2 separate regions of the Homo sapiens genome follow, and region 2 is linked to region 1. The links come from fine-mapping of genetic effects on gene expression. Tissue or cell type: whole blood. Region 1 holds a variant in brackets; the other region holds the start of a gene. All regions are shown on one strand. Distances are from middle to middle.

What was found. PIP is the estimated chance that this variant, and not a neighbour inherited with it, causes the effect.
Region 2: DBNDD1 starts here. The variant in region 1 is fine-mapped to the expression of DBNDD1 in whole blood (TOPMed, PIP above 0.99).

The regions. Positions count from the first base shown.
Region 1 is chr16:89,946,570-89,949,318 of GRCh38, reverse strand. DEF8 (differentially expressed in FDCP 8 homolog) reads right to left here and starts at 564. Exons shown (of 13, transcript NM_001242818.2): 1 at 505-564. RefSeq lists a silencer at 435-534 and an enhancer at 1,215-1,554. The variant G/C (reference allele first, on the strand shown) is at 1,021.
Region 2 is chr16:90,018,044-90,020,792 of GRCh38, reverse strand. It overlaps DBNDD1 (dysbindin domain containing 1), which reads left to right and starts at 1,337. Exons shown (of 4, transcript NM_001042610.3): 1 at 1,337-1,482. The coding sequence starts at 1,452. It also overlaps a transcript of DRC4 not described here. RefSeq lists silencers at 38-332, 1,079-1,218.

The DNA.
Region 1 (2,749 bases):
CCCACCCGTTCCACCGAGGGGGAAACTGAGGCTCGGAGCAGCCCAGGGCGGGGGCACGGCCACGCGGGTCCCCTGAGCCGCCCGGGTGCTCCGCACGCAGCTGGTGTGGACGCCGGAGCAGCGGCGGCGTCCCCGGGGTGGGGCGGCCGAGGTCTCGAGGCCCCTGCGCCGGGCGGGCCGCCCTCCCAGCCCCGTCCCCGCCGGCCCCGACCTCGCCGGCCCCGTCCCCGCCGGCCCCGTCCCCGCCGGCCCCGTCCCTCCCAGCCCCGACCCCGCCGACCCCGTCCCCGCCGGCCCCGTCCCTCCCAGCCCCGACCCCGCCGGCCCCGTCCCCGCCGGCCCCGTCCCCGCCGGCCCCGTCCCTCCCAGCCCCGTCCCCGCCGACCCCGTCCCCGCCGGCCCCGTCCCTCCCAGCCCCGACCCCGCCGACCCCGTCCCCGCCGGCCCCGTCCCCGCCGGCCCCGTCCCCGCCGGCCCCGACCCCGCCGGCCCCGCGCCGCTCACCTGACCGCCGCCTCGCATCTGTCTCCCGGCTGCGCTGGATCCGCCCGGCCGCCCCGCTACGCTGGATCCAGCCCCGCGCTCGCTGCTGCCGCCTCCGGCGCGGAGGTTCATGGCACGCGGGTCGCGAGTCTGCGAGCCCCGGAGTCCGCCCGGCTGTTCCGCGGGCCTGACCTGGGGCTGCGCGTCCTGGGTTTCCTCTCATCGCAGAAGGCCTGTGGCTGAAACCCAAACCCCAACACGTTTAAAAAAAATGGGCGGGCGCGGCGGCTCACGCCTGTCATCCCAGCGCTTCGGGAGGCCGAGGCGGGCGGATCGCGAGGTCAGGAGATCGAGACCATCCTGGCTAACACGGTGAAACCCCGTCTCCACTAAAAATACGAAAAATTAGCCGGGCGCGGTGGCGGGCGCCTGTAGTCCCAGCTACGCGGGAGGCTGAGGCGGGAGAACGGCGTGAACCCGGGAGGCGGAGCTCGGAGTGAGCCGAGATCGCACCACTGCACTCCAGCCTGGGCGACA[G/C]AGCGAGACTCCGTCTCAAAAAAACAAAAAGGGTGGCTTTTAACACTTTTTTTAACCTCAGTGGTTGAGGAGGAAAAAGGAACAGAGAACCACCGTGTGCAGGTGCCGCCAGCCACCTGCAGGGCCCCGCGGGGGCTTCACGGCTGCAGAGGGAGGGACCCGGCGCGGCTCTACCCTCTTTACACAGGAGGACGCGCCACACTGCGCTCAGGAGGCTGCTCCATGCAGGCGCCGGGCAGCGGGACTTCGGAGGCAGCTGGTGTCCGCGGGCCCTGGCGTTATTCCTGCTTTCCCGTTGTTTACACACAGAGCAGGCCTGCTGCTCCCCGCCCCCGTATCCCTACTCTTAGGCTTCTCGCGTGGAAGATTCAGCTGCCCCCGCTTGTGCCCGCAGGGAGGAGCTGAGGACAGATGAAGGCCAGCATATGCGCCTGGTGCGCTTGCCCTGAGCTCGCGGGCTCAGTTTACCCTCCCTGCAGAAAGGTGTGGTTTTGGCTGCCTCTGGGGCTTGGTCCACTTTGTTCAGTGGGCATGGTGATGACAGTGCCAGTAACTGGAGGCCTCCCAAGTGGGAGCCACACACCACCTTGCAGAGACCAGCTCGGTCGGGGAGACCCTAACCCGGCAGCGCTAGAGGAACTAAAGACACACACACACAGAGATAGAGAGGTGTGGAGTGGGAAATCAGGGGTCTCACAGCCTTCAGAGCTGACAGCCTCGAACAGAGACTTACCCACGTATTTATTAACGGCAAACCAGTGATAAGCATTGTTTCTGTAGATATTAGACTAACTAAAAGTATCCCTTATGGGAAACGAAGGGATGGGCCAAGATAAAGGGATGGGTCTGGCTAGTTACCTGCAGCAGGAGCATGTCCTTAAGGCACAGATCGCTCACGCTATTGTTTGTGGCTTAAGAATGCCTTTAAGCAGTTTTCCGCCCTGGGTGGGCCAGGTGTTCCTTGCCCTCATTCTGGTAAACCCACGACCTTCCAGCGTGGGCGTCATGGCCGTCATGAACATGTCACAGTGCTGCAGAGATTTTGTTTATGGCCAGTTTTGGGACCAGTTTATGGCCAGGTTTTGGGGGGCGTGTTGCCAACACCATCTCATTTAACCCTACGGAAGCCTGGGGGCCAGCAGTCACCTACAGGACAGGCAACTCCATCGGCCCCCCCAAGGCCACATCGCTCAGAAAGGGTGCAGTGAGATTCCACCCCAGCTTAGGGTGGCTTCGGACGCCGTGTCCCTCCATGCACTCAGACCTGGAGGGAGACTGCCCTGAGCCGCCGCTCTATCTGCTGCTTCAAGGTCCCCAGTCCTAGAGATTCCACGTCCACCTGGCCTCTCTCCCAGCTCCTCCTTCTGGAAAGGCCTTCCCCATCTCAGCTCCCACCTGGGCCCCACAGTACATCCTCAGCCTGGCAGTGAGAGGGACCCTGGGAAGAAGTCGGCCCCCACCTTCACCTCCTGGCTCCTCTCCCCAACAGGCCAGGCCCACCCCCACCCCCACCTTCACCTCCTGGCTCGTCTCCCCAACAAGCCAGGCCCACCCCCACCGGGGCCCCTGCCTGGCTGAGCCTCTGTGGAGCAGTCCTCCCCAGTAACCCCAACACCTCCTCCTTGCCTCTGCTCAGCAGTCCTCAGTGATCTCTGGGAGGCAGGGCCCTTCCCCTCACTCACTCACCTTCTCCCTAATCACTCGTCACTGTCTGATGTCTTCGGTTTTG
Region 2 (2,749 bases), 71 kb before region 1:
GAATAGGAGGGTTAGCTCAGGATAGCCTAGACAGGGTACTCATTTTTCACAAGCTAAGAGCAATCCTGGTCTGTCGGTGTGGGCTGCAGAGATGAATCATTCAGGGAGCCCTGAATTGCGGCTCCCTGGGATCCCGACAGGGCCCACTGCGACCTGTTCTTTTCATATTGAATTCGAGTTCAGATTTTTAGAAAAGAGCCTTTTCTTCACATATGTGGCTTAAGATACTTTCATTCAGTGTCAAGCTGTGCAGCTCAGAAACCCAGATAAATGGCATCTGAGTTTCCTGCAAAATCCCAGAGCAAATGTTAATACAAACAAACCGACTGCCCTCTGTCTGATGTCTGATGCTTCCTGCCACCCACTATCCACCAGGTAAACCGCCTCAGGCCACGGCATCAACTCAGTGAAGGCCTGGATGCTGGGTTAACAAGAGTGTTTATGAAGACTAGACTTTTTCTTTTCTTTTCTTTTCTTTTTTTTTTTTGAGACATACAATCATAGCTCACGGCAGCCTTGGACTCCTGAGCTCAAGCTGTGCTCCCACCTCAGCCTCCCAAAGGGCTGGGATTACAGGCATGAGTCAATGCTCCTGCAAACGGACTTTCTTTGAGAGATAAATATTGAAGTACTTACAAATGCAATGATCTAATGTGTATATAATTTGCTTCAAAATGACCCAGCAGTGGAGGGAAGTGAATGAGGACAGAGAAGCAGTGGCCCAGGCCAGGAGCTGGCAATCGCTGAATCTGGGCGATAGGGACATGGGGGTCAGTTTCATCGAAACTGCCTTGGCGCTCTCTGCAGCCCGGGCCCGCCGCCCTCTCCTTACCTCCCATCCCCCATCCCGCCCCTTCCAGCCTCCCAAGCACACGCCCTCGCCCCCACCCGCCCCCCGCGTTAATTCGCGCCATCCAGGGCGCTCTGTGAGTCTGTCATTACCCAGCGCGAGTCAGGCCCCTCCTGTGCCCCTCGCCAGCCCCGAGGGGCGCCCGCACACAGTCGGCGCCCCACACGCAAGTACCTGGAAGAGAACAAGAGGACGCCAGCGGGCGCGGCCGCCAAGTGAGTGCGCAGGAGCCCCGGACGCCCGGCCGGGGTCGGGAGGGCGCAGCCAGGTCCCGGTGGTGTCCGCGGCGGGGCGCGGCCCGCGAGGGAAGGGTCGGCGGGGGAGGGGTCCGCTGGGCCAGGGGCCAGCAGGGGGCGCGCGCGGGCCGGGGCGGGGCCGCACCTGTCCTGCGGCTGGGGGGGCGCCGGGAGGGGGCCGGGGCCCGGGAGCAGCTGCGCGCCCCGCCCCGCCCCGCGGGCTCCTCCCTGCCGCCGCGGCCCCCCGGTTGCTGCCCCGATGCGCTGCGCCCGGAGCCGGGGCCGAGTCGCTGCCGCAGCTGTTGGGGCGCCCGGGCCAGGCGACGCCGCCGTCGCCCGTGCCCCTCCCAGACCGCACCGGCCGCATGGAGCCCCCGGAGGGCGCCGGCACCGGAGGTGAGTTCAGCCCCAGCCCCCGAGACCCCCGCGCAGCGCTTCCCCGCAGCGAGCCGCAGCCCCTCCCCCCAGGGCTCACCCTTCGCCGCTCCCGGGAGTCGCGAAGACCCCTTTGGCAGCTCGGGGTCGTCCGGCGGGCCAGGGGCACCTCCCGGGCGCGGTCCCCGCGCGGGGCTGGGGGCACACGGACCGAGTCTCCGCCCCCTTGTTCTCTGCGCTCCCGGCCCGGGAAGCCGTGCCCGGCACGCTCCTTGGTGGGTGGCCCGGAGTTTCGTCCTGAGCCCCCTCCCAGCCAAGCCAGCCGGTGACCCGGGGAGCGGGGGAGGGGGGTTCCGGGGCTGGAGTTTGGGGTCCCTGTCGGTGGGGCGTGAGGGCGACGCTGGCCGCTTGCAAGCGCGTCCGCTTTGTTCGCCCAGCCGCGAGTCCCGGGGGGCGAGGGCCGTAGACTCGCGGGCAGGGATCCTGCCAGGGGCGAGGGGCTGAGATGGGTCTTGGGGATGTGGGGCATGCACGGGCGCGGCCTGCCGGGGACTCCAGAGCTGCAAGGGTGGCTGGTCCGGGAGTGGCCCAGGCGCACGCTCATCGGGGAGGGTAGGTGCGCGTGGAGCGCTCCCTGCCCTGATGGTGGAGGCCCTACTGCAGGACCTTGGAGTCGGTAACGGGAAGAAAGCTCTCAGAACCTCCCCCCTTCCCGATCAGAGACTTTTCCAAAAGGGCTTTCGGGGTTCCATTTGCCTAGGTAGGAACTTGGATGCAAACTGCAGACTCCTCCACCTGCCCAGCCAAGCCCACCACCTCCTGGTTTCCTAGAGCTCCCATTCCAGGGAGCCAGCAGGTGCCTGAGGGCACAGGCAGGCCAGCCTGCCGCTCTGGAACTACATGGGAACCTCTCAGTCCCCCAGCCGCACACAGTGGCATCCTCTGGAGCCCGAAGGGCTGTCCCCGGGAGGAGCAGGTCCACCCACCCTGTGTATCTGCAGTCCAAGGTATAGGGACAAATGCCCCAGGGCTGGTGGGTTTGGGTTTTGATTTGTCATTTGTGGGAGGGACCAGAGCTCTTTCTTAACACTGATAGTCCCAGGCTCCTGGGTATTCCCAGTAGCAGCTTTGTGGACATAGGAAGCCTGGAGGTTGGGAGTGAGGGCTTGGGGGTCTCCGAGCTGTTTCCAGCTGTGAACTGTGGGCAGTCAGGCCCCTGTGAGCCTCAATTTCCATTTCTGTCAGTGGAGACAGTTCTGCTTCCCCTGCAGGGCTGTGGGAGCCCAAG